Linked DNA regions of Homo sapiens. The protein of the gene in region 1 purifies or fractionates together with the protein of each later gene. This does not show direct contact. Each region holds a gene or a part of one and is shown on either strand. Other genes may lie near its edges. The genes, in order: CAMSAP2, DNAJC3, CGN, DCLK1, AGAP1, KCTD3 and GIGYF2.

What was found.
Region 2: the proteins of CAMSAP2 (region 1) and DNAJC3 fractionate together in Homo sapiens (co-fractionation; one large-scale study listed by BioGRID). This does not show direct contact.
Region 3: the proteins of CAMSAP2 (region 1) and CGN purify together in Homo sapiens (affinity purification with mass spectrometry, with the first as the bait; one large-scale study listed by BioGRID). This does not show direct contact.
Region 4: the proteins of CAMSAP2 (region 1) and DCLK1 purify together in Homo sapiens (affinity purification with mass spectrometry, with the first as the bait; one large-scale study listed by BioGRID). This does not show direct contact.
Region 5: the proteins of CAMSAP2 (region 1) and AGAP1 purify together in Homo sapiens (affinity purification with mass spectrometry, with the first as the bait; one large-scale study listed by BioGRID). This does not show direct contact.
Region 6: the proteins of CAMSAP2 (region 1) and KCTD3 purify together in Homo sapiens (affinity purification with mass spectrometry, with the first as the bait; one large-scale study listed by BioGRID). This does not show direct contact.
Region 7: the proteins of CAMSAP2 (region 1) and GIGYF2 purify together in Homo sapiens (affinity purification with mass spectrometry, with the first as the bait; one large-scale study listed by BioGRID). This does not show direct contact.

Annotation. Positions count from the first base shown.
Region 1 is NC_000001.11:200,850,038-200,854,516, forward strand, and holds part of CAMSAP2 (calmodulin-regulated spectrin-associated protein 2), read left to right. Parts: coding exon 1-197; intron 198-2,503; coding exon 2,504-2,640; intron 2,641-3,237; coding exon 3,238-3,458; intron 3,459-4,479. UniProt on the Homo sapiens protein: Key microtubule-organizing protein that specifically binds the minus-end of non-centrosomal microtubules and regulates their dynamics and organization.
Region 2 is NC_000013.11:95,791,506-95,795,834, forward strand, and holds the end of DNAJC3 (dnaJ homolog subfamily C member 3 precursor), read left to right. Parts: 3' UTR 1-3,483; downstream 3,484-4,329. UniProt on the Homo sapiens protein: Involved in the unfolded protein response (UPR) during endoplasmic reticulum (ER) stress.
Region 3 is NC_000001.11:151,517,252-151,521,730, reverse strand, and holds part of CGN (cingulin), read right to left. Parts: intron 3,226-4,479; 5' UTR 3,212-3,225; coding exon 2,339-3,211; intron 1,566-2,338; coding exon 1,465-1,565; intron 1,318-1,464; coding exon 1,248-1,317; intron 1,136-1,247; coding exon 1,040-1,135; intron 1-1,039. UniProt on the Homo sapiens protein: Probably plays a role in the formation and regulation of the tight junction (TJ) paracellular permeability barrier.
Region 4 is NC_000013.11:36,120,687-36,125,165, forward strand, and holds part of DCLK1 (serine/threonine-protein kinase DCLK1), read right to left. Parts: intron 1-4,479.
Region 5 is NC_000002.12:236,039,064-236,043,542, reverse strand, and holds part of AGAP1 (arf-GAP with GTPase, ANK repeat and PH domain-containing protein 1), read right to left. Parts: intron 2,793-4,479; coding exon 2,702-2,792; intron 1-2,701. UniProt on the Homo sapiens protein: GTPase-activating protein for ARF1 and, to a lesser extent, ARF5. Directly and specifically regulates the adapter protein 3 (AP-3)-dependent trafficking of proteins in the endosomal-lysosomal system.
Region 6 is NC_000001.11:215,597,776-215,602,254, reverse strand, and holds part of KCTD3 (BTB/POZ domain-containing protein KCTD3), read right to left. Parts: intron 389-4,479; coding exon 301-388; intron 171-300; coding exon 54-170; intron 1-53. UniProt on the Homo sapiens protein: Accessory subunit of potassium/sodium hyperpolarization-activated cyclic nucleotide-gated channel 3 (HCN3) up-regulating its cell-surface expression and current density without affecting its voltage dependence and kinetics.
Region 7 is NC_000002.12:232,843,147-232,847,625, reverse strand, and holds part of GIGYF2 (GRB10-interacting GYF protein 2), read right to left. Parts: intron 3,581-4,479; coding exon 3,371-3,580; intron 3,258-3,370; coding exon 3,052-3,257; intron 1,895-3,051; coding exon 1,740-1,894; intron 279-1,739; coding exon 55-278; intron 1-54. UniProt on the Homo sapiens protein: Key component of the 4EHP-GYF2 complex, a multiprotein complex that acts as a repressor of translation initiation. In the 4EHP-GYF2 complex, acts as a factor that bridges EIF4E2 to ZFP36/TTP, linking translation repression with mRNA decay.

The DNA.
Region 1 (4,479 bases):
TGAATCAACCCACAGAACCCCCTCCTAAACCCGTTTTCCCACCCACTGCTCCAAAAAATGTTAATCTGATTGAAGTTTCCCTCTCAGATTTGAAACCCCCTGAAAAGGCTGATGTACCTGTTGAAAAATATGATGGAGAAAGTGATAAAGAACAATTTGATGATGACCAGAAAGTATGCTGTGGATTCTTTTTTAAGGTGTAGTATTAATCTGCATAGTTTTGGGCATCTTCATTAGATGAGTGTGGTTGTGTTGGATATTTTTTTTTTCAGTTGACATGCTTGCTTCTTTCAGTAGCAGTCCCTTTTGATACAAGTTCATCCCCATTAACTATAGTAACATTCAAGCACACTGTGGTTTCCAGTATGGACTCAAAGCTGTAATAAATCCTTTTATCACATGTTTAGATGTATTCCTTGGTTTTGCTCCTCTACTGCTCTTTCTCACTCACAAAAGCCTTTTAAAAATTAAGCTACTCAGATCTCTTCAGAGAATGATTCCATTTTGTCTCTTAATCATGTAACACTGCCATTTTTTTTAACAGAATGCTACTGTAGACACTAATAGATATTAAAATTTACTGCCTAGAGACTCTGTTCCTTGCAGAGGAAGGGAAACAAAGGGGAAGAAAATCATTAGTATAAAACAGGCAGTACCTCTGTTGCTTCATTTCTATTCCATTTATTTACACATCTTCACCACCCCATTACTCATCTGTTGGACTATGGTTACAGCTTCTTGACTGGGCTGTCTGTCTCCAATCATGCCATTCCAGTCTTCATACTGCTACTAAAGGTGATAGTTCCAAGAGCATAGCTCCAATTGAGTCTCTTTCTAGTCAAAAATCTTGCCTGTTGAATAAAGTTCAAACCCTTTAGCACAACATTCAGGGACTTTCACAGATGAACCTAAATCTTTTTGTCTAGCTTCTTCCCCATAATTTTATTTTGTATTGTTCTTTAAGATTAACTTCAAGCTTCATCTAAAGCCTTTTATAATTCCTTCAGTCGAGGTCAAATGTTTCATCATTTGTGTATCTATTGTATCCTTAAATATACTCATACCTGTCCTGTGTCCCGGAGTTTTCAACTGTTTTGTATGATTTGCTTTGTCTCTTAGACCATGACCTCCTAGAGGTGCTGCATCTTTTTATTTTTATTTATTTATTTATTTATTTTTTGAGACAGAGCTTCGCTCTTGTTGCCCAGGCTGGAGTACAATGGCGCAATCTCGGCTTACCACAACCTCCGCCTCCTGGGTTCAGGCGATTCTCCTGCCACAGCCTCCCTAGTAGCTGGTATTACAGGCATGCACCACAAAATAAATTTTGTATTTTTAGTAGAGATGGGGTTTCTCCACGTTGGTCAGGCTGGTCTCGAACTCCCAACCTCAGGTGATCTACCCGCCTCAGCCTCCCAAAGTGCTGGGATTACAGGCATGAGCCCCCGTGCCCAGCCAAGGTACTGCATCTTTTTATCCCCATAGCATAATAAAGTGTCTGGCAAACTACAATATATGTAATTTGATAGATGAAGACATATGAATGTTTGAACTAATTGCTTGAATGGTATCTTCTGACTTTCTCCATTCAGAGTTAAATCTCTCTCTGGGTTTCCATACAAAGCCTGTTGTTTGTACCTCTTCTCCTTGTGATTTTTTAGGCTCCTTGACCTGAGGTACCATATATTTTAATATATGTAATATCTGACACTATGTTGTGAGTATGTTAGACACCAAAGAAATGTTTATTGAATTAAGCATTGGCAGGGACAGTTGACAAGGAGACATTAAGACAGTGAACCACTTCTACAACAGCTTGTTACTTTGCTGAATTCTGAAGCATTTTGGAAGCCCGCTGAGAACTAGGGCTGTCCCTAAGGATTCAGGTAGAAACTAGGGCAGGCCCAGGAGGCCTATAGATAATGAACTAGCTCTCAAATTAAAAGTACTGTAGAAGGGAAGTATAATCATCCCCATCTTTTCTTCAATGGAAAAATGTTCATTATAGTTCAGAACCTATCAAGCAGACTGTCAGTACCTCAACTTAAAATCATGCAGCAATAGTTTCATTTATGTGCTACAACATTGGGTGGCTAATTTTGGGATGTTTTTACTTGAGGTATTTTTACTGAGCTTATATTTTAAATAAAATTTAAATGCAATTTTAAAAATTGGTGGGGGAACTACCTACTGTAAGTTATTAAATTAGGGTTAAAAAAAATTTGTGCTTTTTTGTTTTGTTTTTATGGTTGTTCTTTGCAAATCTCATAGGTTTTGACAGAGTGTAATTAAATAAGTTTGCCTGTCCTCTTTTTTGATGGAACTGTTACCACTGTAGTTCCGTTCTTCCTTCATAATTTCTCAACCACACCCACATTCAGAAGGGTTGTAATAGTTCAAACTTTCAGTTATAGGACTAACCACAAAATGTGACTACAACAATTGAAAATGAGAATATTGGTACCTAAAATGTTTGATCGTTTTCAATGAAATTCGTTCTTAGGATGATCAAAAAGCAGAAAATGATATGGCAATGAAACGGGCAGCTTTGTTGGAGAAAAGATTAAGAAGGGAAAAGGAAACTCAGCTCCGGAAACAACAGTTGGAAGCAGAAATGGAGCATAAGAAGGAGGAAACAAGGTAAAGGAAATTGCTGGCCCAGTGCTAGATCTGAACTTTAATGATGCATGGGCATATTTAGAAAAAGTTGGTAAGTACTCAAAGAGGTGGTCTCTCATTAATTTTTATTAACAGATTTCTTTCAGAGAAGTTTGTAGTATAGATAGACAGCTGGATCAATGCTATTTTTTGGTGCTTTGTAGAAATCAATTTATTTTCCCAAAGTATTGCCTAATTTTATATTTTTATCTTAAGTTTAAGGCATCTCATGGGAAAGTTCTCTAGAAACATTAATTTAAATAATTATATGTTTAAAAAACATTAAAATAACTTTCCTGGGAGATACACACACACACACACACACACACACACACGACCTAAATTATCTCAAATACCTTTATTTTTATTTATTTATTTGACTCTTCCTTCCCTCCTTTATTTACTTATTTATGCTTAATCCCATGTCTCAGCAGAATCGTCAAGTACCTTTTAAATGAACCATTTATTCACCAAGGTGATGAAATAGAATTCTCCTTTCTCATATCAAATACATAACTCTCTCCTGTATGGTTTGTCTTTGGTATGCAGAATAAGAACTGTAACCATTTGATTTCTTAGGCGTAAAACTGAGGAAGAACGTCAGAAGAAAGAAGATGAGAGAGCACGCAGAGAATTTATTAGGCAAGAATATATGAGGCGGAAACAACTGAAACTAATGGAAGATATGGATACAGTAATTAAACCCCGTCCTCAAGTAGTAAAACAAAAAAAACAGCGACCAAAATCTATTCACAGAGATCATATTGAATCCCCCAAAACACCAATAAAGGGTCCTCCAGGTAACATAGCTTATTATGAAGAGTCTGTTCATAAAAAACACCAGCTTGATTGGTTTGTCATACTAACTTGGTTGTACTTTGATGTGCAAAATTGGATACACAGTTTGAGATTGTGCATGCTCCCTTTTGGAAAACCAAAATGAGCAAATGAAGTTTTTAATAAATTAAATGTATTATGTGTGCATGCATATATTCAGTAGAACAAATGTGAATGCTAAAAATCAAATCTAAATATTAATCTATTAGGGAACTGTGCCCTCAGATATAATCTCCTTGAACTATTAACTGCCCTTTACATACTTATAAATTTAAATAAATGTTATATGCATGAAATGTACAAGAAACATGTTGGTATAATAAGGAATGCAAGATCAAGAGTTCACAAGTCCCTCCTTCAAGATAGAAATGGTTGAAAATCCAAACTTATAATATCTGGAGTTGAGAGAATATATTTTCTTTAAAAGTCAGTATACATACTCATTATTACTATTATTATTTTTTGAAACGGGGTCTCAGTCTGTTGCCCAGGCTAGAGTGCAGTGGTGTGATCATGGCTCACTGCAGCCTCCACCTCCCTGGGTTCAGGTGATCCTCCCACCTCAGCCTCCTGGGTAGTTGGGACTACAGGTGAGTGCCACCATACCCAGCTAACTTTTTTGTATTTTTTGTACAGATGGGGTTTCTTCATGTTGTTCAGGCTGGTCTCGAACTCTTGGGCTCAAGTAATCTGCCTGCCTTGGCCTCCCAAAGTGTTAGGATTACAGGTGTGAGTCACTGCGCCTGGCCATACTCTTATTTTTAAAAAAATCTTGGGGGGCAGGGATAAATTCGTAAAAATAAAAGAAATCTTTATTAAAACCAAATGCCATGGAAATTTTTTAGAGAATTCTCATAGTTATACTAAACCTGAGGAAAAATAACATAATATTGACTGTTTAAAGAGAACTCTGTTTTCAAGCCTGTAAAACTAATTGATATAATTTTCTACCTAGAATTTAGATATTATGAAATTTTTTTTTGT
Region 2 (4,329 bases), on another chromosome or scaffold:
GTCAGTCTCGTCACTTGTGAGTAGCTGTGAAATCTTTAGTGTGCATGTGTTTGCACCTCTGTGGTCTGTCAACGTGGCTGTCACTGAAGGAGCAAGAGACCATCTTTTAGGAACCCTGCCACCAAATAATAATATATCCAGGCTTAGACTTTGGATTAATGTTAAATGTACATTTTTTTGGTTCAGTACCTGAAGAAGAATACTGAAACTTGAATCTATAAATTCCTATGGACCCTTTTAATATTAAACACAACAAATTAAAAGTTGTTATAGGTAAAATAAGTTCAGATAAAATAGTGGTGGTATTTAAAATAATATTGCTGAAGTGCAGATTGAAATACTTTTTAAACAACTGAAGTTCTGAGTTTTTATAGGGAATTTCATGTAACAAGACTGGTTTAGAAACGTAAAGTTGCGCAGTCAACATAAATAAATACAGAATGCCATGTTCTCCACTTCTAAGTAAAGACAGTGGGCAGCTTCTGTTTCTCCTTCTATCAAGGCTTCACCCTATCTTAAAGGTCTGTGGTGCCTCCCACGTGGGACCTGTCTGCTGGTATGTGTTAAACAGCAGACCGGCCCTTCTACCAGATCTTGATGCCTCTGATTTTCTCCTGCCTACAAGAAAATACAGGCAAGGTTAGTCAGGTCTGGCTATATTTCCACTGTTGTTTCATTTAATAAGATGGCATCTCCTCTTGAGATATGTTCTTCTTACCTTTTAAGAAGATACTATTTAAGAAGTGAACTATTCAGTCTTTGTATACTGAATGCTTTTTCCCTAAAAAATGTTAATCAAGAATATTGAATATTTATGGCACTCTTGATGCTGCATTTGAAAGCTGAAGGAATTACTTTAGATAGATAGGAATTGCTACCTTTATTCTGGAAAGGTTTTGTTTCTGCCTCAAAGCATTTTGAAGTGTTTTAACCATTAAAGGGTCTAATTTTTTTTTCTTAATGAAATCAAGCATTTTAATTCACTGTGGGAGGCATCCTGACCACGGACATCCATAACAGCAAAGCACAAATCGTTTTCGTCTGTAGTCATATCCTGAAACATAGGTGGACAAATTTTTAACTGAGAGACAAAAATCACATAGTTGAATTGAGCAGAACACTTAAGTGCTTTCTGCATCTATTTAGGAGTCTATTTCTTACCAATAAACTTGACAACGCATTTGGAAAACTAGTGAACACCTTACAGCTTTCATTTTGCTTTAATGTTTCAATTCAAGCCGGTGTAAAAATAATTTCCAAGGCATTTCTGTTTATTCTTTAGTAATCTCACTACTGGCTATGTCAGCAATATCTTTTTCAATCTGGTTCCTTTTGTATATGATGTCACTGTGACCTCTTTGAAATATAGTGATGGCTTTTACCTACTTTGAAAAGAATTTTCACATAGAGTCAGAAAAAAAAGGAAATATCAAATCACTTGCCTTTCCACTTGGAGAGCACGACAGTTGCCAACAACAAGGGGTCAAGGGCCGCACAGGAGATGTGTGGGGGCCTGGCCACCTCCCACCTGCTGCCCAGAGGCTTGTTTGCATTTTCATTTTTTCTCCACTTGTAACAACCATAGTTTCAGCTCCTAAATTCTTATCATGGATTTACTTAGTCATCTTAACTGACCTGCAGTTACTTGCCTGTTTTCAGTGAAGAGAGAGAAGCAGCTCTGGTGCCACATGCCAGTGCCATGGAGGGAAATGAATTCTCTGCAATCTGTTGTTTCGCTGATTCATGAAGAAAGTAACAACTGTTGAGTTTCAGCCTTGATGGCTGTCGGCAGTTTTCTGGTGTCCACCCAAACGGAGAGACAGTCACTCCTGCTTACCCTAATGTGTGACTGAGAAGCAGCCTGGGTGTGTAAAGAGATAGTCATTCCCCCTGCCTGTCTCACTGTAGGGTAGCATTATCCACTGTAAAACCATACTACTTTCATTTTCCCTTGGGGACTACAGGTGCCAGGTAACCTTTTTTTTTTTTTTTTTTTTTTTTTGAGACAGAATCTTGCTCTGTTGCCCAGGCTGGAGTGCAGGGACACCTCCCGGGTTCAAGCAGTTCTCCTGCCTCAGCCTCCAAGTAGCTGGGACTATAGGCACGCACCACCATGCCTGGCTAATTTTTGTATTTTTAGTAGAAATGGGGTTTCACTGTGTTAGCCAGGATGGTCTTGATCTCCTGACCTTGTGATCTGCCCGCCTTGGCCTTCCAAAGTGTTGGGATTACAGGCGTGAGCCACTGCGCCTGGCCATCAGGTAACCTTTATGGCTCTTTCAGGAAAAGTGAAATCAGAGAGGCGTACCCTAGCCACAGCTGTTGTATTCTGCTCTTCTTTCCTTTTTGGTGAGCTTCATGGGTGGAGTTATCAGTGGTCTGTACTTTGTGGATATTTTGCCCAGCAGGAAGTATTAGACACATCAGTCTAGAAGCATTGTGAAAAGGTTCCAAAACGGGAGACAAAATTTAATTCATTCCTCAGTTCTGAAAGTTTGTGCTTTCTTACCATGAATAGATGAAAACTTGAAAAAAATCTTGACAGTTTACTAATGTGAATCAGATGTAACGTACTACTAATTCTACAATGCCTTTCTCTTTAGTCAGTATTAAAAATCTTTTTTAAAGTATTGGTATGAAAACAAATTTTTGTTGCCCTGATAATGGAATTTTAAAACTACCCACAGTTTAAGAGAAAACATAACTTGGTAAAAAAGGTAGCCAATAAAACCACAATTTGAAATTGATACCATTTTCTACTCACAATGGATGATGAAAAATTTCACCTTTAAATGGGTCAGAAGTTGTCTTTGACATTTACCATGAAAAAACTACATAAAATGGCTCCCTGGTGAGGTTACAGACACGGCCCTGGTGATGGGCGTTGCAAAGTTTTCACTGAGCACACAGCAATGGTATCACCTAGAGAAGTTCACGCAACTTTGTTGAATGTAGTTGACTTTTCCAAATTTATAAAGGAAGGAAGAAGGCAAATGTTAATTTGCCAACAACGAATATCCTTTTTCTAAATCAGATCATTCCTTTTTTGTTAGTGGCAGTTTATCCTGTAATTTCAAATGACGTTAAGAGGTGGGATTATTTGGGGGTTTTTTTTGTTTGTTTACAGATGATCTCATTTGCTGAATGATTGATTTAAGAGTAAAATTAGCCACTGCGTGGCTTTGTGTATAGTAACCGGTTTTGTTGCACTTGTCTGTGGCTGAAACACTTACCTGCAGTGGAAAGCCGAGCAAGGAGGAGGTAAACATTGGAGATGTTTGTGAAAATATTACTCTTGCTGTGAGGTTTTAGTTTGTTTTGAATGAGAAAAGACTAAGTAACTTAATCCATCTCAATGTAGTGTTTTAATAAAAAAGGAACCTAATATTTGAAATGGGTCTCAGACATGTCTACAAATATGGGTACTATTTTTATGCCCGTGTATTTTCACATTTAATAAAAATATTTATGGTCATATCAGTATTTCCTTGCTTTTGATTCATTTTTGTCCTTGAGTATAAAATTCTAAGAAAGTCCGTCTTAGGAAAAGTCTATTATTTCCAGCTTTGCTTCACGCAAAACCAGTGACTGAGGTGACAAAAGGGCTCTTCCTTTACACAAGTTGACAGGGAAGGTCAGAACACACAAAGCAGAAAGGGCTAAAATAAAATCTCTTAACCCTCAAAAGTCCTAGGACAACTAAGGACTTAAAAAGTGGACAAGTCTTCCATTTCAGTGCTATTAAAATGTAACACTTAAATTGGCTTTGTCTGAAGATTTTCTCTTCTCTTTTATACCCCATTTGTACATTTCTGTTAAGGTCCTAAGTTGGGAGGAAGGAAGGACACTATAGCCTATCTATCTCAAATTTCCAGCTACAAACAGAAGGAACTGCCTTCTCAGTTAATGTATTCTGCATATCTTAAGAAAGATCCAAGGAGAGCTACGATATGTAAATGTATACAGAACTTTTCCAGAAAGCTCAAACCTTCCTTTTTTTTTTTTTTTTTTTGAGACGGAGTCTTGCTCTGTTGCCCAGGCTGGAGTGCAGTGGCATGATCTCGGCTCACTGCAACCTCTGCCTCCCTGGTTCAAACAATTAACTGCCACAGCCTCCCGAGTAGCTGGGATTATAGGTGCCCACCACCACACCTGGCTAATTTTTTTGTATTTTTAGTAGAGATGGGGTTTCACCATCTTGGCCAGGCTGGTCTTGAATTCCTGACCTCGTGATCCACCTGCCTTGACCTCCCAAAGTGCTGGGATTACAGGCGTGAGCCACTGCACCCGGCCAAAGCTTCCAAATTCTTAATCGTCATGATATTGTAG
Region 3 (4,479 bases), about 49 Mb from region 1:
AAGTAGCTGGGATTACAGGCATGTGCCACCATACCAGGCTAATTTTGTATTTTTAGTAGAGACAGGATTTCTCCATGTTGGTCAGGCTGGTCTCAAACTCCCAACCTCAGGTGATCTGCCTGCCTCAGCCTCCCAAAGGATTACAGGTGTGAGCCACTGCGCCCGGCTGGGAAATGTTTGTTTAAAGCTATTGAGTTTTGGGTAATTTGTTACACAGCAATAGTTAATTAATATAGTACTATCATAATCCCCACTTTACAATTTAGGAAACAGAGGCTTAGAACATTTAAAGAACTTGCCCAAGGTCAGTTACACAGCCAACAAGTAACAGAACCAGGATTTGAACCCAGTTAGTTTGGCTCCACAGCCAATCACTTAATCATTACACTACAGTGATTTCCAAAAGACAAGGGAAGTTACAATCCAACATTTATTGAGCACCAACTACACACAAACCAATATGATGAAAGGCAGAAGACATGTTTTTAAAAAGGGTACACTGGCTTTAGAATAAGACTGACCCGGATTTTTTCATTCCTCTCTGCAACTTACTACCATAGGCAATTTACTTAGCCTCTCTGATCTTCAGTTTTCTCATCAGAAAAGGGTCCAGAATAGGTATTCACAGGGTAACTATAATGATTACAGTACCCAGGACAGTACATACTACCAAAATTATACTCAATAAATGATAGCTACTACTATTGCCATTATTATGATAATGATAAAAAAAAATTGAGGCACAGAGAATGTAAGTAATTTTCTTAAGTTTTATATAGCTAGTAAGGGGCAGAGCCAGGATGGGAACTCCCAAAGGGAGTGGAATGGAAGGTAGGTAGATTCCTAATGTGCTCTGCCTCCCTAACCCCCACAGAACCCCAGAAGTCCTTCCTGGAATTAGTACACATTCTTGTCTCTTGTCTCATAAGACACAAACATGCTTGTTCCATTGCTTAGAAGGGTCAGCTCAGCCCATCTCCAGGCCAAGGCTTTTTCCCTGTTTTCCTTCATGCCTCCGGCACCTCTAACCTTTCCTTACCTTCACCTCTTCATCCAGCTTTCGCTGTAGCTCCTCCACTTTTCGGGTAAGCTCACCCTGCCCTGCCACGGCCTTAGTAGAACCAGAAGAAACCATCTGCCAGAGATATGGGGGGTGTGGGGGAAGGGAGTGAGTCCAAGTCTGGATCCCCTGAGGCCCTCAAAGCTCTAACCTTGACCCTTGCTCCCATCCAGAGAAGGCCACTCACCACTAGAGGCTGCATCTTCTCCAGCACCAAACTAACCTTCCTCCTCACAGAGGTTTCACTTTCTGAGCTTCTAGAGGATAAAAGGATAGAAGCAAGGGTTAGGGGAGGAAAGAGGTAGCAGAGATCAGGAAAGGGTAAAATCAGGGAAGATGGGAAACAAAGCTAGAAGAAAAAGAAGGAGGGGTATGCCTCTGTTGTTGGGGGGGCCCCCACTCACCCCTCCCTCAGGATGCCATAGATGGTGGCCTTCATATGGTCCACACTGCCTGGTGGGGCTGCCTCCTGCTGGTCTCGAAGGAGGTCTGGAGTTGATTTGAACTGTTAAAAAAAAAGAAAAAGAAAAAAAAAAGAAAGAAAGAAAGAAATAGGAAGATTAGGCCAGAAGCATGCGTGGGGTTCAGATGGAGGAGAAGTGGCAGTCTCAGGTCAAGTCCCTTCAAGCATGATGAACAATCCTGAAATGCAGCAAGGAAAACATGCTGTGGAGGCCTGAGCAACAGGCCAGGGAGAGGCCAACACAGGATGCACCTCTGCACTGTTGCTGTAAACCAGATTTTCCTCAACAAACATCTCAACCAGCTGCAAACTGTGCCACAAGTGATTTGTCACTAATGGTAGTTAACATGCTAGAGTTTATAAATAATTTACTTTTAAAACAGACTTACGTTTCTCTCAAAGTAAAGTCACTCCCTCACTTACTTACATTCCTGAGTAGGAGAGAAAGGTGTGGAATTTTGGCAAGAGCACCAAGGAAACTGCTCTTATCCTCCAAGCCCGCCTTACATATTCTGCAGACCTTGCAAATGCTGGTGACTGAGCCATAGTTAATGGTTGTGGCAATGACAACTAGGTCCAAACTTGTGAATAGTGATTTTATAGCTTGCTCCATTTTCTTTAGAATTTTACCCATGGAAATATCCTGTGCATGTGAATATCACCTATTTTGTGGACAGATACAGTAGAGAACAAAAGGCAGAGAGTTTCTGCCTAGGCTATTTGAATTAGCAAGGAGGCTCATGGCTGGTGGGTAAAAGCTGATGAGAAGGGAGAAGGGGCTGACATTTAGAAGTCAGGGAGGGGCTGGGTCTGACCTGCAGCATGGTGGGGTCCTGTGCACTCCTCCGCGGCTCCTCAAAACTCTGAAGGACCCAGTCCTGAGTCTGACGAGAACGGCTAAAGCCACTGAGAGGACTCAGGTTCTGGCTCTGGGCTGGCTGCTTCGAAGTGCCCACATGGTTGTCATATTTTGTGCTAGAGGTCCAGTGGTTGGTGGACTGGCGCTCCCGTTCCTCAAAGGTGTCCCGTGGGAGGCGGCTGTCCAGGCTCTTGCTCCGTTTGCGCTGTTCAGGGGGTAGCATCCGTGTTCGGCGGCCAGTCCGACCCCGGGCCTGGCCTCCAAGTTGACTGTCAAACTTGTTGATGAGTGAGTCCACTGAAGACAGGGGAGCAGTGTCAATGGTGCTACCTGGGGAAGCCACTTTCGGGGCTAGCTCCAGCATGCTGTTGCTTCTGTTACTAGGATCCACTGGGCCAGGGCCTGCCAGTGAGGCCTGGGAGTGGGAACGGAGTAGCTTTCCATTCCAGTAGGCCCCAGGCTCCTCATCAGATGTGCTGCTCTGCGAGGGGGCAGGAAATCCCTTGACCTGAGAGTAGGGGTTCTCAGGGAGTTCCAAATCTGAGCTCAGAGCTCCTGAGGCCCCTTGGTCATTGGCCCCCTTGATTTGGACCCCAAAGGAGTCACCGCCTTTCTCCCCACTGTTGAGCACCACAAAGGGCTGCCCAGCGATTCCCTGCACACGCACAGCAACCCCGTAGGTACTGGCTCTTGCATCCTTAGCTGGGCGTCGTCCACCTCGACGTAGAGTGCCCATCTCTGCACCACTCACTGGCTCTGTGATGAAGCGAATCTGGACTCCATGGTCTACGGGGCCCCGGGGCTCAGCCATGTTGGGTGCCTGCTCCATAAATAGGAGGAGTCCTAGAAGATGAAGAAATGAGTTTAGGCTGAGAGACTTCACTAGAAACTATGAAACTTCTACCTGCGGGCTGACTTCCCTGTCAGTTCCTACTAGATAAACCACTGATTCTCAGACTAACAGAAGGCCCCTGGAGAGCCTTTTAACATACCGGTTGCTGGACCTAACCTCCAGAGCTTCTGATTCAGTAGGTCTGGGTTAGGACTTGAGAATTTGCATTTCTAACCAAGTTCCCCAGGTGATACTGATGCTACTGGTCCAGGTACCACACTTTGAGACTCACTAACCTAAAAGAATCCACTTCCTCTGATACAGCCCTGGGGAGCTAGGCTTTGTTAAAAGTTTAAAGATTTTGCTTGATGGCCAGGAGCAGTGGCTCACACCTGTAATCCCACCACTTTGGAAGGCCAAGGCGGGTGGACTGCTTGAGCTCAGGAGTTCAAGACCAGTCCGGGCAACATGGTGAAACCCCATCTCTACAAAAAATACAAAAATAAACTGGGCCTGGTGGTGCACACCTGTAATCCCAGCTACTTGGGAGGCTGAGGTGGGAGGATCACTTGAGCTTGAGAGAGGCTGCAGTGAGCAGTGATTATGCCACTGTTCTCCAGCCTGGGTGACAGAGTGAGACCCTGTCTCAAAAAAAAAAAAAAAGATTTTACTTGATCTTCATACATACATATAATACCACCATGTGGCCAGGTACAGTGGCTCATGCCTATAATCCCAGCACTTTGGGAGGCTGAGGCAGGTGGATCACCTGAGGTCAGGAGTTCAAGACCAGCCTGACCAACACGGTGAAACCTTGTCTCTACTAATAATACAAAAACTTAGCTAGGCGTGGTGGCGCATGCCTGTAATCCCAGCTACTCAGGAGGCTGAAGCAGAAGAATTGCTTGAACCCGGGAGGTGGAGGTTGCAGTGAGCCGAGATTGCGCCACTGCACTCCAGCTTGGGTGACAAAAGCAAAACTCTATCTCCAAAAAAAAAAAAAAAAAACACTGTGTGCCTTCTTCCCTTCCTCCCACCAAGGGAAGGCAGAACCCACACCCTGCTGAGCAGATACCTCCATCTCACTGGAGAAAAGGGGGCCTTCTCTCCCAGAGCTCATTTAAAATATAGAAGACCTCAAAGTATATCATCCCACTTCTGGAAAGAAACTTAAAAACACTGATAGCAGTGATGCCTTTGAGGTGGAGGAACTGAGGACTAGGAACAGGGATGGGAGAGTTTCTATTCTCTGGAAGAGCAGAAAG
Region 4 (4,479 bases), on another chromosome or scaffold:
CTGATAGGAAAATGATCATAAATGATGGAGAGGCAATGCACAGAAAATGAAATACAAATGCCCTTTAAACACATGAAAAGATGAAAATTATGTGAAAATTATATGAAAAACTGTATGAGAAGACATACAGTTTTCTTTTCTTAATGGGTTAGTTAATGGGAAACATCTGATTTCAAAACATCTTGTTGAGGATAGAGAAACGGCCACTTTCATACATAAGTGGTTGGAGTGTAAACTGAATCCACTTTTATGAAGGGGAATTTTGCAAATAGTGCTTAAAACTTTAATGCTTGTACCTCTCTACCCAACAATATTACTTCTAGGAATTTATCCTAAAGATATTCTCCTACATGACTGGAAAACATCTATCCAAGGATAGTCATCACACAACTGTCTGTAATAACAAATAATTGAACACAACCTAAAAGCATATTGATAAAAGACTGGTTAAATTAATGATGGTAACTTTGTATAAAGGAGTACTATGAAGTCAGTAAAAGAACACAGTAGTTTTGGATGTACCAGTATGGAAAGGTCTTCAGGATATATTGTTAAGTACACAAAGCAAGGTGCAGAACTGTTGGCATAAAAAGTTACCTTCTGGGCAAATTACAGTACTGCCCCACTTTATCCATGGTTTCAGTTACCTGCAGTCAACTGAGGTCCAAAAATATTACATGAAAAAATCCAGAAAGAGACAATTCAGGAGTTTTAAACTGCATGCAGTTCTGAGTAGTGTGATGAACTCTCACGCCATCTTGCTTCTTCCATCTCTATCACAAGAAGGGCAAGTACAGTACAAAAGGATGTTTTGAGAGAGACGCCACATTCACATAACTTTTATTATAGTATATTGTTATAATTGTTCCATTGTATTTGTTATTGTTGTTAATTTCTTGCCATGCCTAATTTATAAATTAAACTTTATCATATACCTTGCATCATATACATACCTTTATCATAGGTATGTATTCACAGGAAAAAAAGCACAGTATACACAGGGTTCAGTACTATTTGCAGTTTCAGGCAACCACTGGGTGTCATAGAACGTATTTCCTTCCAGGATAAGGGGGCATTGCTGTATATGTGTCCTTCACATGCACTGGTATCTCTGAGAGGACCCTCAAGAAACTAGTAGGCTGGGCACAGTGCCTCACGCCTGAAATCCCAGCATTTTGGGAGGCTGAGGTGGGTGGATGGCTTGAGCCCAGGAGTTTGAGACCAGCCTGGGAAACATGGCAAAACCCTGTTTTTTGTTTTTGCTTTTGTTTTTAAAGAAAGAAAAAAGAAAAGAAAAAGAAACTAGTAAAGTGGTCCCCTCTGAGGAATTTTAGGAAGAGCAAATTTTATATCTATTCAAAAATTAATTTTAAAAAATTCATTATAGCAAGGAGAGGCATAGAGAAAGCCAGTGAAATAGGGAAATAAAGTAGAGGATGCTCTATTAGGGAATAGGAAAAGATGGGTAACCCAGAGGCTGTGGTAGGAAAGAGATTCCCTAACTGTGGGGTGAAGCATGGGTTTAATCCTGAGAGGGGGATTATGATAGAAACTTGGAAAAAGCCCTTATGCAAACTGCAGCTCCAGAGTCAGGCAACGTCCATACAGGGTTAGTGAAAAGCCAAGGCATACATGAGAACCAAAGAAGAAGAGGGACTCATCTCTAATAGCGCAGATCTGATGAACAAATTCACTTACTTGTATCCAGAAGATTACATATCTACAGAGTTTTTATCTTAATGTTTAAAGAAAATGTTCTGGCCCTCTCACATGTACATTTTCATAAGATGTTAAAAGAAGGACAAATCAGTCAATCCATCAATGCTCCAGGTTTACATTACATCTTTCTCCTAAGAGTTCAAAGGCTTTAAATGTGACACCTTTATTTATCATCACAACATTTACCTACCTACAGTAGAATATAGATGGTGCAAAATTGGGGGAAATGAGGCCAAGTCTCAAGATGAATCACTTGCGGAAATAGGCCTGCAATTCAACTTTCCTTATTAAGCATCATGATTTTTTTAAAAAAACATATTAAGGCCATTTTGAAAGCAAACAAGAGTGTCACCTTTGGAATGCTCTTAAGTGTATGTGTGTGAATATGTGTGTATATACATACATATGTGCATAGGTGACACACATACAATCATAGACACACACATTCACACTGACTATATGATTTTGGCTCAGCTAAATACATACAGCTAGCTCTACCAACATGCTTAAACCACACTTAGGCATAATAATCCATAGATAAAAACAAAACAGTGACAGTGACCACAAGACTGTCATAGATAAAGAAATTCACAAATATTGTAATTCAGAATTTTTAGTCTGAGAGCAAGTGAGAAAGAGCAAGAAAATAACTATAAGTCCAATACACTTGCCACTGCACCCACTAAAAGGATTTAATTTAAAACTCAAACATCATCATATTGGAAGGGGAAATGAAAAGCTAATAACATGCACTGACGTTTACATAAAATTAGTATGTAAAGTCAGAGATATGAGCCTAATGATGAATATGAACCAACGGTTTGCATTTTAACAGACTAAGCAAAAAATGTAATTGACAAAGAGGCGAATCTAAATGAATTTCCAGCTATTTAAACACTAAGTGCAGCTGCATGCTAATTGTCAGTGTTATGAATTAGAAAAAAAATCTGTTTAAATGAAAATTCAAAAAATAAATGCAGCCAACATGGTGAACTCACACACTGTACCAAAGTTACCATTCATTCAATCAGATAATTTTTTTTTCCCAAAAAAGTCATTTTTAAACATCAGAATATTCAGTCGGCAGTTACTTCACATTGATTGAGGGGAAAAACTCAATATAGTAGTTGAATTCATAGCACACAGCATCTTAGAGGTAGTTATGAGCTCAAGCTTTGGCACTAGCCTTCCTGGGTTCAAATCCTAACTCTACCATTTCTTTCTTTGTGAGTTTGAGCAGATCATTTAACCACACTGTACCTTCCTTTTCTCACCTTAATATAAGGATAACAGTTCCCACCTCCTAGGATCATTGTGAGAATTAAATGTATTCATATATGCAGGGATTTGGCCAGTGCCTGGCACATGCTCAATAACTGAGAGCTATCATTATTACCTTCAGTCAAGACATCAGTCCCTCAGAGAAAGCATTATTTTGCAGTAAAAGACAAAGAAGATGGTGACAAGCATGCCATAATTTTGCTGGTCCCTAGATGTGAAGGGAGTACTGTCATCTACCACCTCCCAGACCCTCTCCTTGGTGGATGGGAGTCATTGGAGTATCTTCGGCCACTTCTAAGTAAAGATCATTTCTGGGTGGGAAACTGATTGAAGTACCCCAACCCCCATAGATGCTACACAAGTGACTCTGGAACAGAGTGAGGTGTCAACCCATGGCTGTCTTAGGATGTGCTTTGAGATCTTGCCATATTTTTCCCTACAGTACTACCGGCCCTCAGAGGGACGGCTTGTTGACTGGTCATGCACCTGACTTTGCGTATAACTTTTATCCAGATCCCCTAGACTATACCACCAAATGTTTCATTTAACCTTGGATTTCCAAAGGTCATGCAAAGGACAGGGCACAGAAATTAAAGCTGAAACAGTAAAATTTCATGTTAATTCTTCTCCTTTAATTTACTGGAAGTTCCACCCTCTGAATAGAAGGAAAAAGGCCAAGTCCACAGGCATGTTGGCAGCATGTCAAGTCACCGAAAAGGGATGTGAATTCCCACAAAATAAACACAGGCTCCTCTGCACGCTCTCAAGGCCAGTCACACTGTGATCAGGCTGGCATTTCTGCCAAGGGATGAAGGGAAGCAAAAAGGGAGAAGTCCCCAGCCTTGAATCACATACATACACTGGTTACAAAGCAGGACAAGAGGGCTCTGTCAGTGTGCGGTCAGGGGAGAGCAGCCCCCAACTCCAACGGGGCTGCAACGGGTGCTTCCTGCTACCTGCACAAGAGAGGGAGGGATTATATGGCATCCCTCCTGGACCCAGTTGAGTTACACGGCCTGAGCAAATAGTTCTGGAGTAAAAATGAACTCAAGGTGAAATCAAGCTCTTCCAACACTCCATCCAACCTCCCTTTCCCAGATTCTTTTGTGCCATCTACTTCTTCATCATCAGGGCCTTGAGATCTCAATTTCAGAAAAATCAACCCTCCAAAAAGGATCTGCTAGCTTTTTTTGCACCTTGGTATACATTTAATCCCAGTCTTTTTTCTCCAACTCATTTTAATTGGCGATGATTTCTAAGGCAATGACAGGCTTTATGCCCTGTTCAAACAGGGTCAGTCCTGAGGCAAGTGTAGCCCAGAGTCGGTGACCTTCTCTGCTTGCATAAGATACCAGGCTGCATCCGTGGACGCAAACAGTCCTATTTCCACATTAAATGTCTAAAACAGATAATGACTATTAACCTAAATTGGACTTAAAAAATTAAACTGAACAGATTAGTCCCTGCATATCCTCAAAA
Region 5 (4,479 bases), on another chromosome or scaffold:
GCTGGCCAGGCTGGTCTCGAACTCCTGACCTCAGGTGATCCGCCCACCTTGGCCTCCCAAAGTGCTGGGATTACAGGCGTGAGCCACCGTGCCCAGGCTCAATTAAGTCTTTTTCCATGATTTTTAAAGGTAGCAAAGACAAGACATCACCATGAACTGCTCTTCAATTGTTAGACATTTGGGATGCTTCTGATTTTTTGCCATGTAAAGCACTGTGATGAACATCTGGAAAGACAGATCTCTGCACCCGCCTTACTCAATCCCATTGGTTTAGTTCCTGGAGTATACAGCTGGAGTCAAGGGCATCCACTCTTCAAAAGCTTTTTATATACATTGTCGAAAGGCCCCATGGAGGTGTTTACAGTTCATCATCAGTGTGGGCACTGTACCTATCCCGGTACTTTAACCAAAATTGGGTATTTTTACTTAACAAATCCTTGCCAATGTGCTACATCTTCTGAGCCTTTCCATTCTTGAGAAAATACAGCAGGCTGGACAACAGATGGGTTTGAATCCTGCTTTGGGACTTGCTATTTCTGTGACCTCAGACAAATGACTTGACCCTTCAGGCTCCTCAATTCCTCCCCTTTAAGTGGGGCCCACAGGGGCACCAACTACTAGGGTTGCAGAATGAAAAGACAGCGCATGGGAGGGTTTGGCACCGGGCTGACACAGACCACACATTTAGCAAATGCGTGCTTGGTATCGCCTCTTTCTCCTGAATTGTCAAACTCTGCCTTTTCCCTTTGTCCCTGTCCATCTGCTCAGGTGGTCTTGCTCAGAACAAACTGGCCCACACCTCCCCTGCACTGGCCTCCCTTTCCCACCCCCCATCCGCACTCACATGCACAAGCTCATCTCAGACAGGACCTGCGACCTCCGATTTGCCAGGTATCATGGTCCCCGCAAGCCACGGATGGCTTTCCTTTTAAAGCGACCTTCAGACGCACGGTGGAAACAACTGCAGGCATTTTCCTTAATGGATGTTCTAATATTTCTCAGATTCGTGCTTTTAAAAAAGCTCTTACTTTTAAAACTTTTTGATAGAAACACACTTCAAATAACTGCTTCTCTCTTCGAACTTCATTTCACCACACATTTGAAAGTAAAACTTAAACATTCAAACATAAGGAGGTACTTTAAAGAAGAACCTCAAGATACCTGGAGAAGAACCCCTTCCCTCACCCGCAGGACAGGCTTCCAGAGAGGCCGCAGACAGACTTTTGATCTCTCCCCTGCCTGCTATGCTGCTGAGTGGACTCTTGGAGGGGGCGCTTCCTTTCCCTTTTGTCTGGAGCAGTCCTGGGCTCCTGTCTCCCTTCCCGGCCAAGCCGACCCTGGCTGGCCTCCTCCCTGCTTTGCCTCTATTCCAGTATGTTCAAAATGGTCTGGCCAGATCCATCTCCCCAAGTGGAGCTCAGGGTCCATCTCCTTCCTGCTCTAAAACTCCAATGATGTCTCTCTGCTTACAAATGAAGAACAAAGCTGGAAAAAGTTTCACTTGGCACTCACACTCCAACTAGCTTCTACTGGTTTTCCAGCCCAAAAAGCATCTCTAATCCTACAACCACCCAGAGAAGCTCTCCTCAAGCCACTCCCTTTGCTCACAGTGATTCCTTCGGCCCCTTCCCTGTACAAACCCTGCCCATCTCCAGAGCCCTGCTGACACGACAGCTCCTGCATGGGTGGCAAGACCGCCGCATGCCCCCGATGGCTCTCCCCAGCGCTTAGCTCCATGGTCAGCAGGTTGGTGCCTTGTCCAGTGCATTTCAGGCTTCAGGATGGCAGGACCCACCACGCCATGCACGTTTGACTCCTGGGCAGCACCCAGCCTGGTACCAGCACCTCTTACCTTGTTTGAACTGAACTTCCTTCTCTTCAAAACACTACTTAACAAAAAAAATCTGAAGGGAAGAAATTTACTGAATGTCTCCAATACTGTCTCTGGGCTGGGACTGCAACCATGAAAATAAGTCCCTACTCTCAAGATTATGAACAACAAAATGACTTTTTCAAAGGGAAAGTAATAGTATGGATTAGACAACGGAAATCATGAAATAAAACTGGGGTACTCGATGGCACAAAGCAGTAATTACAACTTCTATCAGTTCAATCAGAGGCTTTAGTGGGTAATGGATTTAAGACCAAAAAAAAACAAGACATCATTTGATGGCAAAACCCAGAACATATGATTGTGAATTTAAAAAAACAATACCCAAGAATCTCTAGGCAGGAATGAACCAATTATATTCTATTTTTATGAAAAAAAAAAAAAATCAACAAGTGATCACTGATTAAGCAAAAAGTAAGCCAGCTGCCACGCCTAGTTAATTTTTAATTTTCTGTAGAGACGGGTTCTCCCTGTGTTGCCCAGGCTCGTCTTGAATTCCTGGGCTTCCTAGATTTGGCACAGGCTGTGGGTGTGGGGTTGAATCCTTTGCACCTCAGGTATGACTGCTGCTCATCGGATGCCTAAGGCAAGGAAAGACTCACAGAAACGCACCCTGCAGCCAGGGGTGAGGCTTGTGTGGAAGGCACTCTGTTAAGGTAAAATCCAAACAAAATATCTCAATTTCCTAAAAGCAGTTAACTCTTATCTGCCAAACAGGACAGATGTGAGTCCCCTGCAACCCGGGCCTAGTGGGACCATGTGGTCTCCAGCTACACAGCGCCAGCCCCTGCTACCACCGCACACACTTACTCTGGGTCTCGCAGTCCACACAGTGGGAGTTCCCGCGCATGTTCCGGATCGACTGCAGGGCCATGGCCTCGCTCTGGCTCGTCAGCCGGGACTGGGCACGGAGGAAGACACAAATACAAGGCGTAAGCACCCCGGGAGAAACGCACATCACTGATAACATCAGGGAAAGATCAAACAGATTGGGAGCAAATGTAGGACGAGGGTAATTTCTAAACAATCACTCTTGTTTTGATGTCTTTGGGAAAGAGCATAACTGAAGAAGAAATCATCATGCATGGGGCGGGGGGAGGGAGGAAATGTCACATTTTAACTCATCAGCTGAGACGGACTCTGCCAGAAATGAGCAAAGAGGAGAGTTCTGGATCATCTGTGAATACGCATGGACCATGGTAACCTGGAGAAGGTAAATGGGTAACCTTCTGGGCAGTAGCCACATGTCTACTTGGTAAGAAGAATGAGAAAGAAATAATCCGTTTATAAGCCCAGGGTTAGGGCTTCATCAGCAATGTAAGACATATCTCATGGTTCCTTGTCAGAAAACCCCATTCATACCACACGTCACCCTGGGAGATGCACATGTCATCTGAAGACCCTCGGTTGCCACAGTGACAAAGCCACTCGCCAGGGTGGGGGCAGGGAGAAACACGAGTATAGCTGGGAGTGCTGATTCTTAACCTTACACTTGATGGCTTGCTTTATTTTTATTTATTTATTTATTATTATTATTTTTTGAGCCAGTGTCTCGCTCTGTGGCTGAGGCTGGGGTGCAGTGGTGTGATCATAGCTCACTGCAGCCTTGAACTCGTGGGCTCAAGTGATCCTCCTGCCTTAGCCTCCTATAGTGTTGAGATTACAGGTGTGAGCCACCACACCTGGCTCTATGGTCTTCTTTAAAAAGGATTTAAAAACATACATGCTCATTGAAGCAAGTTTAGAAAATACAGAGAGGGGAAAAAGAACATAAAATTAATAAACAATCATACGGCCATCCATAGTTAAGCATTATTAACATTTTGATGTCTGTTCTTTTAGCCTGTTGTTTAAGCACATCTACATACACATATGTACTTTAAAAAGCCAGCGTAATACATATTGCTGCATAGAAACCTGCCCTTTCCAGCCTAACGAAACTTGTTCATTGCTCACTGCTGTCACATACTCTCTGACATCATCATTTTAAATGGCTGCATAGCATTCCACTTAGTGAAGACCTACTTATCAAGTTCTCTTTGATGGACATTTAAGTTGCTTCCAATTTTTCTCTATCATAAACGATGCTGTAAGAACATATGATTGCTAAGTCTTGGTACACACTCATGATTATTTACTAAGAATAGATTCCTGGAAGTAGAAGTTCTAAGTGAAAGGATATGTACTGGATATGTACCTTTTTCCCCACCTAGAGAGAGGGTCTTGCTCTGTTGCCCAGGCTGGAGTAGTGCAATCATAGCTCACTGCAGCCTCCATCTCCTGGGCTCAAGTGGTCCTCCCACCTCAGCCTCCTGAGTAGCTGGAACTACAGGTGTGAACCATGCACCTGGCTATTTAAAAATTTTTTTGTAGAGACAATGGTCTCCCTATGTTGGCCAGGCTGGTCTCGAACTCCTTGCCTCAAGTGATCCTCCCACCTTAGCCTCCCAAAGCACTAGGAGTACAGGCGTGAACCATCGTGTCTGGCTGATATGTAGTGTTTTTGAGGCTTATTTATTAAGTATGCATTTAATATTATGGTTAAAGCAAAAATTGATCAATTTCAGAGGACAGTTACAATAAGCTTG
Region 6 (4,479 bases), about 15 Mb from region 1:
AATGAATAAAAAGATAAAAAGTCAAGAATGTATATAATTGGCCATGTACTAACTTGTTTTGGGTGTGAGGTAAACACTCAGAGCAGTAATAGCATCATTTGAAGGATCATGATACAGTTCAGTTACAAGAAGATCATTATCTTTCATTCGCAAGGGGAACTTCTGCATATCTAAAACATAAAAATTTTAAACAGCATTAAAATAAATAGCATATCTATTTAAAACTGAAAGGTAATGTTTTCTTGTTCTCATTTAAAAAATTACATTAAGCAGGAGCATTTTAAGTGACTGAACACTTACCTATGTAATATATTGATCCATTGTTACATCCAAGCAGAAGGAATGATCCAGCAGTGTCATAACTAGTTATAGGAACAACATCTTGAACCTGATGTAGTGAGAGTATTATCAGATGTTAGATAGTAATTATAATTTCTATTTTCTGGTCAATTTCCTCAAAACTTTGATTCTTCTGGTAAAGAGGCAACCAATATCCAATTTTAGTAGGGCTTAGGAAATAAACTTTCTTTAGGTGCACGCGTGCACACACATATACACAAACATGCTACAGAGGAGAACCATCAATATACTTCCTTCAAAATATTTTTTTTAAATTGTATTTCCCACAGCAGTACTTTCCTTTCTCAATTTCGATTGGTTGTCTCCTCTTTTTTTGCATGTGATCACTAGATTGCAGCCCACTAGAACTGGAAGGCCGAGTCTGACCAGGTCCCTCTCTTTTCCCTTTCTCATACAAGAGATTAAATGACCTGTCCAAAGTTACACAGTAAGCAAGTGACAGAATCAGAACTAGTAAACAAAGCAACTGATTTCCAGAAAGTACTTGCTCCCTTGATAATTTATTATTTCTCTGAAAAGGTGGTATTCTCTATTTTTCATTCTCCTTGCTAAAGGTTACTTCTTTTCTAGGAAATGGCAAGGGAAACAAAGTCTCATTTGTATTTATTTTTTTAAAGTATAGGAATAAAAAAATTAGTTTTTCCAGGAAAATCAATCTAGTTTACAAATTAATACCTTCCCATATTTGTGCTAAAAGAAACCTGCCGAGGCAGGCAGATCACCAGAGGTCAGGAATTCGAAATCAGCCTAGCTAACACGGTGAAACCCTGTCTCTACTAAATATACAAAATTAGCTGGGCGTAGTGGCGCATGCCAGTAATCCCGGCTGCTCGGGAGGCTGAGGCAGGAGAATTGCTCGAACCTGGGAGGCAGAGGTTGCGGTGAGCGGGGATTGTGCCACTGCACTCCAGCCTGGGCAACAGAGTGAGACTTGGTATCCAAAAAAAAAAAAAAATGTGTTTGCTAGGATAGTTGCAATACTATTTTACTAGAGTGATATTCTACTATTCATCAAAATGAATCTTCCCTGTTTACAGCCAGGCCAGACAAGCCTGTTAAGCTTCTTCACAGATGACATTTGAATTACTAAGACACCAAGTTTTGCATACAAGTCTAAAAGATTTCCAATAATTTAAAAGTTAAAAATGTTAAGGGACTTTTACTTTTCATATACTATACCTGGCTTTCATTTGAAAAGTTAAAATCTAAACATTATCTGCTTAACATTTAAGTACTTTTTATGTACCACATATTATCCAAGAAAACAAACAATGAACTAGAGATAAGGGATGTGAGGTATCCCCTTGCTCTCTAGGAGCTGGTAACTTGTGAGAAAGAAAAATAACAGACAATTATAGTGTGACAGGCACTAAAATAGACTACAATACAATCACAGGAGAGAGGGGAAGAACTGCCATCTCAGTGCTGGTGGGTGAAGAGCAAAGATCAAGGAAGGTTCACAGAGGAAGTGAAGCTTGAAGACTGAAGTCAACTATGAGTTAGGTAGGGCAAGGGGAAAGGGAATATCTGAAGAGCAAGTAAAAAAAGCACAGAATCTAGGTTCATTCTAATTAAAAACAGAAATAACTAAAACTTGGAAATAATCATTCCTCTAAGCTCTTCCTGTATATAATCCTAATTTCTGTACCCTCTCAATGTCATGCAGTTATGAGTTACACAAGAAATATCTCAAAGAACTCAATCATCATGCCCTATCCTGAGGTCAGGCTTTTAATTAAAGCCAATGCCAAAACATTTTATACCAGGAAAACATTGAGTACTTTTCAGTGATATCAGTAAAGATGTCTAAAGGATGGAGGGGAGACTGCTTTACACACCACTAACCAATTTTCTTACTCAAGTTAGCTAAATCATTTTAGTTCTAGCACTAAAGGAAAGGGCTTCAACTCCTGCCCCAGATTCTTCATGGCAGGAAAATGGGGACAGATAAGGCCATGAGATTCTTCTCCCTTTGGATACATTCTTTTTTTTTTTTTTTTTTCAATGAAAGAGCAGCAGGAGCCTAGCGCTTCCCAAGGCACAAAGGCAAACATTTTTACCATTTATTCTCTGGGAGGATGGGCTCTAGGATTAAAGCCTTGCTACTTCTCCTTCTGTAACCTTTAATCATGATCTGCCTTTCTTTCCATGTCTACCCCTCCATACGGGAAAACAGAGAAAGCAGAGGATAAGCAGAGTTACAGTGAGTTACAACTGCTGAGTTCTTCTCTCCCAGCACAAGCAAGGAAGCAGCCACTGTGTGGCCTCCTCTTCTTCGTCCTAACAACTTCATGGCAAGAATCCAAGAAACCATACTGATTAGTATGCATGGTTCAGTCATGTGGTCACAAATATAAAATGGAAGTGGATTTTTCTCTTATAAGGTAGCACACAGTGATTACCACTAATTTCTACATGTAAATTTAAATTTACAGTTTTAAAATACCAGTCTATCTTCCCATATAAGGCCCCTAGAATCTTTTAACTACAATCTCTATACCTGTAAACTTATCATTATTTTTTACAGGATGTTTTAACCTTCGTCCATTACTTTTTAAATAATCACTTATCTAAATTTACCATCGTATTTACCAACATCTTTCCTAATCACTGCTTAATGCATTCCATTTCTTCCCCTTCAAATATAACGTTCTTCTCAAAAGGCATTTTTCTTTAGTAGTCCTTTCAAAAATTCTCTCTGAAAAAAAACCCTTCTCATTCAGGTTTGAATGATAGTTTTGCTGTGTATGAAAACCTAGGCTGAAAGTTACTTTCTCTACCATTTGGAGAATGCCCGTTGTCGTCTTCTGGTGTCTACTACTGGTGATGAGAAATCTGATCAAAGTCTAATGACAGGCAAACTGTCACTATTCTATGAATACTTTTTATCATAATTTATCTTTTATTATAGCACATTTAAACATTCAGGCTGCCAAGACTTGGTACATTTCTTTAATCAATAAATTCATGCCCATTTTCATTTCTCCAAAATGTTAGCAGTTGTTATCTTTTTCAATATGGCTCCTCTAGTCTGTTCCTATCTGAAATGCTTTCTCACTTTTTCCTTCTTTTTCATATTTTCTATCTCACTCTTGGCTCAACTGGAAATGATTTTCTCAGACGTGTCTGTCAATTTACTAATTTTCTTTTAGCTGCGCTTCTATTTAACCATTAAATAAAATTAAAAATTTTTTTTCAATGACCTTTTAATTTTCAGTATTTTATTTCCCTCCATTTTCTGATTTGTCCTATTCCTTCAATACAGCAGCTTTCTAATTGTTCCATTATTTCCAATTTGGGGATTGCAAATTTTTTCTTGTTTAATGACTTTTCGTTATTTGTTTCCATGTGAAGTTTATAAGTTTTGGGAGGTTATTTTAGCAGAAATTACTCTTTCTACAGGATTCTTGTGTGCTCTCTTCTGAGAAAGTGTTCTAACTGGTGTCATATCTGTATCTAGAAATGTCAATAGTCCTAGATCAGTTTCTCAAATTGGAGTTCTCATAGAACAAAGGCAAGTCTTTGTGCTTCAATTCACTCCTAATTTGAATATGTTGGTTTCAATTTCTAATGGTTTCCTCTTGCATCTCCTTTTCCCATTCCAAGACACCAAACACACATCAAACTTTCTTGTTCCAAGATTACTGGGCAAACTTTTCCCAGTCTTCTCAGGGACTGAGAAACTTAAAACTTCAGATTTTTGTAGGAGGCTCAATTTCTACTGTCCCATGAAATCATGCCTCCTACTTTTGCTAAAATCCCAGATCCCAGAGCCTTTACTTTGGTATGTGGTATGAAAGTGTGTATAAACAAACTAGTCAATTAACTTAATACTTAGTATAAACAATATACATTGTTTCAATATTTGTATCTAGTATTTCTATATATAAATTTAGAAAGTCTAAATCTAAGTAAGTATCTCATATTTCTTACTATAAATTCTGTAAGTAAGCAAACAGACCACAGTTAAGACAGCAGTCAAGACAATACTGAAAAGTCAATCCCCTCTCTCCCCAACAAAATGTGGGCCTAGGATTCCTAGGATGCCTGCCTTATTCCTATTCCTAATATGCAGAGGTCTGTAAACCTATCACACACACAGAAAAAGTGTGCTTCTAA
Region 7 (4,479 bases), on another chromosome or scaffold:
ACATCTAAAGGTATTAATCCTCAGAGGTACCGCATACACCACACTACTTTATACCTGCTGTTGTGGCTGCTGTGGCGGCTGCTGTGGCGGCTGCTGCTGCTGCTGCTGTGGCAGCTGCTGCTGCTGACGCTGCTGGTTGGCTTTCTGTTTGGCACGGCGCTCAAGGAACTGCTTGGCAAACTCCTTGGCCTCAGAAGTATCTCCTAAATAGGCCCTGATATAATCATGGACCTCATAAGGAGATTCTACTTCTTTCAGGAAAGAAACAAATGTGGGAACTGCAAAACGGGAGGGGAGAAGATAAGGGTAACAATGAAATAATGAAAGAGAACTTACAAAAATCAGTTTCCATTTTTAATGTATCTTTATACCTAATCAAACATTAATGACAGACACTTGGTAAGTATGCAGCAATTGTGTTTAAATATTCTTTTATCTACCCTATAGAAATGAAAAAAACACTATAATCACAACATCCATACCACATGTTTAATTTCACTGAATGTTATACTGACTGAAACAGTTACTTGACTAAGGCTGAAGTAATTTGGGGATTCATTCTTTCCTTAAGAACCCTCAAATTCAATCAGTATTTATTAACTCCTATGATATGTGTCAGGCACTACAACATACACTAAAGAAAACAGCTATATCTTCCTGGAACTTTCAATCCACTGAGATTTTTTAGAGAGAAATCAAATGGAAAATGTAAGCAGTGTGTGGTATAGGAGAAAAGCATGAGTATCAGAGTTAGACAAACATGGGTTTAAAACCTGACTCTGAAATTTGCTGGCTGTGTGACCTTGATGAGTTATTTAACCATTCTGAGCCTCTGTTTCCTAATTTATAAAATGGGGATAATATCACCTATCTTGTAAAGGTATCTTTAAAAATCACTGCTAATCAAATAACTGGGATGCTGCATGTTAACTCCAAGAGAGTGCCTAGCACACATGGTAGGTGCTTAATGCATGGCAGCCATTACTGTTATTTAAAATTGTTTTCTCTGTAGGCTTTTAAACCATTAGATATTGTTACACTGCTGCAAAGGAACTCTTTAATTCCTTTACTGCTATTTTTCACAGTTTCTTGGCTTTAGACAGGGTATCAGAGGTGGATTAATTCAATTCAGCCTATTAGTTAGGGGAATCCTGACATGTTGACCAGTCTCTCTTCAAATATTCAGGGATGGGAGACAGTTCTGTTTGTAAACAGCTAACCATGAGCAAGTTTTTCTCTAAACTGTGCCAAAGCCTTTTCACTTCTGCACATTGGTCCTAGTTTTATCTTACACAAAATAAGTGTACTTGCTTTATCACAATTCCCATTCCCTCCCCCAAAGGTAGAAAGGGAATGATGTCACATCACTTCAGCCATCACTTGTCCAGGTTGACCTTTGTCCCCAGCATGAGAGTTACTTTTTTTAACTTGACATAGCTGGCAATGTTCCCCATAAAATGAACAGTATGGAACTAAGACCTCCTCTGTCCTGTGTATCATTAAGGCAGTCTAAGATGGCATTTACTTTTTGACAACCACCAATAATCTATTTGAGTTTAGTATTACTGGACTTTTCTCACAAGTAATACTATTAAAGAGTCAAGTTCCTATGGCAGGTGCAGCAGTTGACCTCCTTAGATTTCATCTTTTGACTTTTGGCCCACTGTTCAAATTTGCCAGCCTCTCTGTGGGTCCTGCTCTGTCATTCCACATGCCGGGTTTCCCTCCCCAATTCTTACCATCCAAGTTATTTGCCGTATTAAGGGCATGAAGCATCTGTTCACACCACTGCGTAAATCCATCTTGGGCTTTATTTACTCCCTGAAAGAGCTTCAGCAACTTTTCTTCTTCTTCTACTTTCTTATTCTGCCGGTTAGACACACCTACAGATTTACTAAAGCAAAACAATAGGGTGATATTATATTCCCAGAAACTGTTACTATATGATTATAGTACAACACCATAAATAATGTCTTGGCAATACTGGATGGATGCCCAGTAAATAATCCAATGCTTGGCTCCAAAAAAGAAAAAAATTCAAATATTTGGATTGGATATACCCTTAAAATCTAGCCTCAGTTAATATATCCTAATTTGTGGATACAGGGGTTCTACTTAGAAAAAATGATGAAATTCTTCCTACGTGTCCTTAGGTAAGTTGTTTAATTTTACTAAGCCTCAGTCTCCTCATCTGTAAAACGGTACTAACAACTTTTTTGGGTTATCATAAGTAATAAAGATGTTCTATGAAAAGGCCTACAGCACAGTGCCTGGCAAAGATGCTCAATAAACTAACAGAAATTTATTGTTCTATTCATAATATGTTAGGCCCTAAATCAAGAAGAAACAATCTGACAACACTACCATTTATTAAGTAGTTACTATGTGCCAGGCACTTACTACTTATCATGTATTCATTTAATCTTTACAATTACATGCATAAAGTTGTTATTATTATCTTCATTTTACCGATGAGGGAACTGAGGCCCAAAGAGGTTCCCTCTTGCCCAAGGTCACACAGCTAATAAGTGGTAGTGCTGGGATTTGAGTTCATGTATTTAACACTAAAACCCATGCTCGTTCAACAACACTGTATATTGAAGAAAGAAAGATGAAGATGAAAATGTAACTAACTTATAAAAATAAATAGGTTTAAGGTCATTACAGAGGTATTTTATAATACTCATATTAATAGCATAAATTACTTAAAAATACAAATATAGGAAAAATGCTAAGGTATCTAGAGAATACCTTGGAGAAATGTTCAACAACACAACAAAAACATTATACTATTCCTAATATTTATTAAGTGGTTACCATGTGCTAGGCGATAGAATAAGTGCTCAGCAGGAGCCCCAAGAAATAATACGAATGTGTTTCTATGGGGAAGAAAGCAATCACCATAATTATGACTGCATGTGCTTGAACACAGATGAAAACGGTAAGCAAAAACTCAATAACTACCTTTTCCTGCCCACCCAACATCCCACTTCCTCCATCCCCACCTCCCAACCAACCAAGGTGCATAGGTGTGGTCATTTTGAGCCCTACCTGAGACTGGCGTTGTTTTTATTTTTATTTGTTGAATTCCTAGGTCCCACCTCTTTCACTGCATCATCCCAGAATCCCATGTTGGAGTTTTTAGTGTCAGCATTACTCCAAATACTACTGACTAGGTCAGATGCCCACTGGTTAGGAGGACCAGTATTTATAGAGCCCCAAACAGAATTCCCAATGCTGGTGTGCAGGTTGGAATGCTGTTAAAGAAAAAGAGAAAAATGATTATCGTGAATCATGTTAAAAAGATAAGAAGACAGTCAGAAAAGATAATACTAGTCCATACAACGACAGCTTAGGAAAATGCACACACCGTATTGTTACGAGCTCTGTTTGGTTGCTGGTGTTGCTGCTGCTGCTGCTGCTGCTTTTGCATTTGCCTGGCCTCTTCCTGCTGGATCTCCAGAAGAGATTTCGTGGTACCTGAAGGTTTGCTGACATTCCCCCAACCTGAGAGTTTCTGCTGTTGCTGTTGCTGCTGCTGCTGAAGAGCTTTCATCAACTCCCTCTGCTGGCGCCTTTGCTGTTGCATAAAAACAGAAGCTAGCTGAGGATTCCTGTTTTTAGATAATAGTTATAAATATCCAGTATACTAAATGGAATGTAAATACACAGTAGCTACATAAAATTAACTTGATGGGATTAAATTCTGCTGTTGCAAATAAAAATGTAAATCGCTAACAGTATTAAAAAGGAGAATAAAAACATGAAATGCAAAATTACTTCTTTTTTTATTGTTGTTGAGACTGTGTCTCACTCTTCCGCCCAGGCTGGAGTGCAGTGGCACACTCTCAGCCCACTGGAACCTCCGCCTCCCAGGTTCAAGCCACAATGCCCGGTTAATTTTTTGTATTTTTAGTAGAGATGGGATTTCACCATATTGGCCGGGCTGGTCTCGAACTCCTGGCCTCAAGCGATCTGCCCACCTCGGCTTCCCAAAGTGCTGGGATTACAGGCATGAGCCACAGTGCCCGGCCTCAGAATTACTTTTTTTTTTTTTTTTTTTGAGACAGGGTCTCGCTCTGTCGCCCAGACTGGAGTGCAATGGCACGATCTCAGCTCACTGCAACCTCCGCCTCCCGGGTTCAAGTAATTCTCCTGCCTCGGCCTCCTGAGTAGCTGGGATTACAGGCGCCTGCCACCACACCACGCCTGGCTAATTTTTGTATTTTTAGTAGAGACGGGGTTTCACCATGTTGGTCAGGCTGGCCTTGAACTCCTGACCTTGTAATCCACCCGCCTCAGCCTCCCAAAGTGCTAGGATTACAGGAGTGAGCCACCGAGCCTGGCCAGAATTACTTCTTAAAAATTAAGTAGGCTTTTGGTTAAGCACAGAAATAAAACACATGTTTACTTCCTAAAGCCCCCACCAAAATGACAGATTATACACACACACACACACACACACACACACACACACAC